Linked DNA regions of Homo sapiens: region 1 is linked to region 2. The links come from fine-mapping of genetic effects on gene expression. A gene starts in region 2. The other region holds a variant in brackets. All regions are shown on one strand. Distances are between the middles of the regions.

Evidence for each region. PIP is the estimated chance that this variant, and not a neighbour inherited with it, causes the effect.
Region 1: its variant is fine-mapped to the expression of LAMB3 in whole blood (TOPMed, PIP above 0.99).

What each region holds. Positions count from the first base shown.
Region 1 is chr1:209,754,842-209,757,745 of GRCh38, reverse strand. It overlaps TRAF3IP3 (TRAF3 interacting protein 3), which reads right to left and starts at 1,693. Exons shown (of 17, transcript NM_025228.4): 1 at 1,437-1,693. RefSeq lists enhancers at 1,121-1,530, 1,811-1,970. The variant G/T (reference allele first, on the strand shown) is at 1,512.
Region 2 is chr1:209,651,023-209,653,920 of GRCh38, reverse strand. It overlaps LAMB3 (laminin subunit beta 3), which reads left to right and starts at 1,496. Exons shown (of 23, transcript NM_000228.3): 1 at 1,496-1,552. RefSeq lists an enhancer at 795-1,994.

The DNA of each region.
Region 1 (2,904 bases), 100 kb before region 2:
TATCCTTGTTATGCCGATGTTGGATATTGAAGACTTGGTGCTGTAAGACAAAGGCTCCAAGCTAAACTAGCACTTCTAGGACCAAGAATGCCTTCTCTCATCCTCTCAACCCTCTCTCTCTTTGACAGAGTATATTGTTTACCAGATTGAGGGGATGCTGGCCCCAGGCTGAAGTCACATTTACTTCTGACCTCTGGGTTTGGGCTATAAGGAGAAAGGCTTCTCTGTGGTCTGGACATAATTGCCATCCCAATTACACCAAGCCGAAAGGTAAGGAAGAGATGGGGTCTGCCTGTGTCACACATAAGGTGTGAGGTCCCCTCCCTGTTTGGCTCAGCTTCCCCACAGGTTTTGTAGTGGAGGCAGAACATTGAGAATCCTCCTACCTTCTTGCCGCGAAGAGGAAAGGGCTGTGGGGGAGAAGACAGTGCCTGAGATGAGGTCTCTCTGGGCTCTCCACCCAGGCCACCAACCTTAGTCCACTGAAACACACAGCTGCTCTGCTCTCTGCTTCCTTGGGGCAGACATGGAGCCTTCTTACCCAAGAAAGGAGCTGCAGTGGAAATGGCTCCTTAGAGAGGGGAGTGTTCCCAGATGCCTTGGCTACCACACCTGCTAGGATTTGGTGCAGCATGCTGCATAGAACCCTACCCAGGTTTCTGGGATATCTGGACCCTACTGACTTGCTTGAAAACAAGAAGGTATGTGGGACGGCTGACAGGGGTAGGCTGCTAAAGAAAAGGGAACTGGTCCCTGTAGGGTTCAAAGAAAGATCACTTGGCCACTGCCCAGGCTTTCTGGCATCTCTCAGGTTCCCCCCTGGCAGCATGACTGGGCTCACTTAGAGCTTGGAGGAAGAAGGTTTACTGGCTGGGAAGGCTCAGCCTGGTCTCTCAGGCTGCAGAGAGAGAACAGGGCATGGCTCCTCACCTGACTGTGGCTTGACATGCCTTTCTGAGTCTCGCTTTTACTTCCTGGCCATGTTTGTAATGGAGACAATGAATGGCTTCCTGCATGGGTTGGCCTTCCTGGCCCAGAGCTCTCAGTGTGAACTGAGGGGAGAGGGGCCTGCGCTTAAGCTGCTGGGAAGGCAGTCTTGTGTTCAGGGATCCCTGCTTTGAAGAAAACTGTAAAAGGTCATTTAATTCATGCCCATATCACTGGGTAGCCTGAACTCTAAGTCGTTTGACTCACTCCTAATCTAATGTAATCTAATCTACTGGAACAGAGGAGTGGTGCAAGCTGTACCCTGTGCCATGGCTAGCGCCACAGGAAACCAATACAGGATACTTTCTTGGTTACCCAAACCCCTGACACCCTTAAACTATGCCACCCACTCTCCACCCAGGGGAGCTGGGATGGTAGAGCATCTTCTGCCCTACCCCGAAGTTGGAGTTCCCAAACCTGGACACAAAAGCATCCTCCTTCTCAGTTACCTCCTAGTCCCAGGCTCCAACTCAAGCCACTCGGGAAAGCATTCCAGTCCTGGGCAGATCTTGGCTCTGGTCTCA[G/T]ATGGAGCAAGACAGCAGATGGGTAAAGCACACGCTTTCAATCCATAGGTCTGGGCCCCATTAACACGTCCCTTCTTGGTACCGTCTTTCTTTTTGCACAGCAGCCTTGCTGAAACAGGAAACAGACAAAGCCACAAGGTTCGCAAACCCCAGTTCCTCTCTCTTGCTCTCTGGTATCATCTAAGTGGGCCCCTGAACTCTGAGGCCTCCAGGGCTGGGCTCAGGAGCTCCTCCCATCAGTAGGCACCCCGGCCACCCTTTCTCTTGCTACTGGATTGGTCGGAGCTCTTGGACAGTTTCAAGTCAAGATTCCTTTCCATGATTAGAAAAGGATAGTCCTCTGGGTCAGATTCAGACCTTTGTGGTTTCTATGAGAGGGAAAAAAATGCCTTTTTGGTGGTAAGACCTAGATGAGATGTTCTCAGTGTAGGCTTTCATGTGTATCAGGTAGTTCTTTGTGTAAGGATTTTCCTTTTTCTTTAGCCACCTCTTCCCAATCCTGGTGTTGTAAAGAGTTTCTGCTCTTCTGAAGTAGGTGGTGTCTTTCTCAGATTCTGGAATGAGACCAACTCTGGATTTGCTCCTTTCTGGAGCAATGAGGAGGGAGTGTAAAGGTGGGTAGCTGGGGGATGAAGGAAGGAATAGAAGGCAGAGTCTTCTACACATTTTTTTATCTGGTCAACCGGACTAGGAAATTTAGGGAAAAACTAAAGGGAACTGATTTGCATGCATTAAGATGAAGCCATCACAAATGATGCAGCCAGGAAATTCCCAAGAAGTTCAGGCTAAAATAGTGGAGAGGAAACTGGATTGGGACAAGTTAACTGAGCAGCTTTGTAACCTTGTAAAATTCACCTTGTCTGGATGCTACTCACTGTGGTAGTTGGGTGATGTATGTGGCTCTTTGGAATTCTAAGGTTTGACACATGTGAGGCAGGTAATGAGACTTAAAAATAGCTGTGATAACATTTATTAACATGTGGAGAGTTTGTCACCATTTTCTCTGCTTCTGCTTCTTTCTCTGTTCTTTGAGGAGAAAAAGGACAAGGAATCGGCAGGGAAAAGCAGAGGATGGATTCTCAAGCACTAGGACTGAAGACAAGTGGCATTTACTCAGGATGAGAGACAACAGCTCAAGGCCCTGTGTCTGGAGCTTGACACATAGAGATGGGAATGAGTAGAGGACAGAGGGCTTGGGGAGCCCAAGATGTCAGAAAAAGAGAATTTTGGCCGGGCACAGTGGCTCACACCTGTAATCCCAGCACTTTGGGAGGTCCAGGTGGGTGGATCACTTGAGGTCAAGAGTTCAAGACTAGCCTGGCCAACATGGTGAAACCCCATCTCTACCAAAAATATAAAAAATTAGCCGGATGTCATGGCATGTGCCTGTAAA
Region 2 (2,898 bases):
GGGACTTGAGGGAGGTCTCTCTGTGTTGAAGGGACACTGCTTCTACTGACCTTACTTGCTGAGTTGAGCTAGATTTCACTGGAATGCTTACAGGGGGCAAGACTCTAACATTTATTGGACTATCAATTATGCATCAACTTACATCAACAACTCACTGCCCACTTGCTAATTACACTATTTCTTCTGCCTACCTGAACTTATGCTTAATTCGAATCTGAGGGTTAGAAATGCCCAATTTAATCCACAAAATTCTACATTTCCCCCTTAAGGGTCTTCAAGCCAATTTCTTGGACATAACCCTCCAATGGTGGAGAACTTTCTGTTTAGGAGACACTAACAAAGTGGAATCGTAGTTAAGAAGCTCCTTTAAATAGTAGCTTTGAGGTCCTAGCATTCCAAAACGGTGCCAGTGCAGGCTCTCCAGGGCCAAGATATGGACTGGCTGACCCTCCAGGTTTCCCTAAAAGCTCTCTGACCCTAACCTGGGGGAAAGAGTGTCCTGTGAGACCAGCCTCTCAATTTGGACCTGCCACTTCCATTTACAGTGGCTGGAAGCCCAGGATCCCTGAGCAAGGAGCCCACAAAAGAAGCTGTGTTCTCAGGCCTGGCAGGAGGCCAGGGAAAGTCTGTTTTGACTTTGTCAGTCAAGCTATGCTTCAGCCTTTCCTTCCACCACTTGTGGTCAGGTCTGTTTTCTGGCCCTCCAGGCGGGCATTCCTGCCTAGGGAGGGAGGGGCTAGGAGACTAACCCTCCCCACAGGTGGGAGGAGTGACTCACAGGCAGCTACCTGTCCCAGGGCTCCCTGCCAACCCTGTGGAGGGAGCTGGAGGCGAGCCATTTAGTTACTCTGCTCATTTCTCTTAAGCTTTCCTTGGATGAGTTGAGCTTTGAATCCTTCCTGATGAACCTTGCCTTTTAAGGATCCTCCAAATGCCCCAAGAAGCTGGGATTTTTCATTTTTTTTTTCACTGGGGAGGGGAATGGTGCTTTCCAGGGTCCTGGATGTTTGAGTCTTCTCACCTTCCAGCCCGGTGATATGTCTGGAGCTTTAACTCTCTATATAAGCCCTAATCTTTGTGTTCTCTGCCTGATCTTCTGTCTGGGGTGGTCCAGGTCACAAGAAGAAGCTGACCCCTGCTGGCTTTGGGAAAATGCTGAGTTCATTGCCTGGCACAAATGCAAGGGCCCTTCCCCACCCTGTGAATTCTGGTCTCTGATGATCACTTACATGTGCCTTGTGCTTTCTGTTTGAGGGGCCCCTTGCAGCCCCCACAGGCAGGTGGGCATTGTGGAGCTCACTACAAGAACTCTGGGACGGACCGACCAACCCACTTGCCCAGTCCCGTCCTGGGAGGTGGGGGTGCAGTGACGACAGATGGGTGTGACGGCTGCCAGATTCCTGAGACCCGCCCTGCGGTGGGGCTACACCCAGCCAGGGAGTCTCCAGAGGTGAGGCTGTTGTTTAAAAACCTGGAGCCGGGAGGGGAGACCCCCACATTCAAGAGGAGCTTTCAGGCGATCTGGAGAAAGAACGGCAGAACACACAGCAAGGTATGTTACCTGTCTTTACCTGCCTGGTGCGGGCCGGATGCGGGAGGAGGACTGTATCTCTGGATGCCTGGGGCCTGGTTTCAGGGCCTGATTTATTCCTCTTCCTGGGAGCTCACTCAGGTGAGCTAGGTTAAAATGTCTGCTACAGTTTTGATTTCTTTTTCACATTTGATAAGCACCTCAGTGGCTTAGAAGAAAGCAGGTTCAGATCCGGGGTTGAGCACAAAAGAGAAGTGAGAAGGGTGGGCTGGCCTGGCTCAGAATGCCTACTTGCAGGGGGATTTTCAGTCAGGGGTGGGAAAGCTGAGAAAGCACTGGATGAAAGTCAGAAGATGGGTCTCTCTTAGGCCATCGTTAGCTGTGGGACCCCAGGCCACATGTTCCCTCCCTGGGCCCATGACTCTTTTAGGAGAGGGATTGGAAGGAATGATTTTGAAGCATTAGGATCTATAATTTAAAGATGCCAGAAATGTCCTCAATTTCCCCCCCCGCCCCTGCCTTGCCAAGCCCCCAGCCCTCCACCCCAGCCAAAAGAGTTTGTGGCTGTCATTGGAACAGAGTGAACATCCAATTCAAGGCAGAAGGGTCACTGCATGAGCAAGGGTGGGGCATGTTTCCACAAGGCAGGCCTGCCTCTGGGACCCCACGGTGGCTTTCGAGCATCCTTCCCCAGCCTCCTTCAGAATCCCTGCTTTGTGGCCTCCCAGCCCCACCCCTCTTGTCGAGCCCCAGCCCATCATTGAAGACATTTTGGGTTGCTTCCCTTTCAGAAGAAACCCTCACTCACTTGTTAAAGACAGCCATACATCTCTCCCTGTTGCATCCCAGAATTGTGGGCACAGAGCCTCAAACTCAAAGTGGCCCTGAATGGTATTGGAGGCCATGCCCGTGACAGGAGAAGGTTTGCCTCCAGGCCGTCAGCCACTCTGACTCATTCACTTTGGGCGGGGCTGGGTTGAGGCTGCTGGTCTAGGCCCTGAGAAAAGCCAGCCCTCTCTCTTGGGGCTGGAACTAGGTCTTGGCCCTTTCTACAGCTTTTCTCCTGCAAAGGGTCCAGCCTTTTCCTGCTCCCCACGTTGTCCTTACGGCTGTGTGGGGTAGGGCAGGGTCCACACTCCTTCCCATCCATTTTAGAGGAGGAAGCTGGAGTCTGGGAAGGGATGGGATTTTCCCAGGGCACCCTGTGAGTCACATGCCACTTGAGACAAGGGTCTAGAGCTCCAGCATTTTCCAAGCTACAAATGTATCTGCTGCTCCAAGTGTCCTAGATCAGGACCCTAGGTAAAGACTTCTGAAAAATACTTGAGTCTAGAAACAGAAAAGAAAAAGGGCTAGTGTGCTCTAGG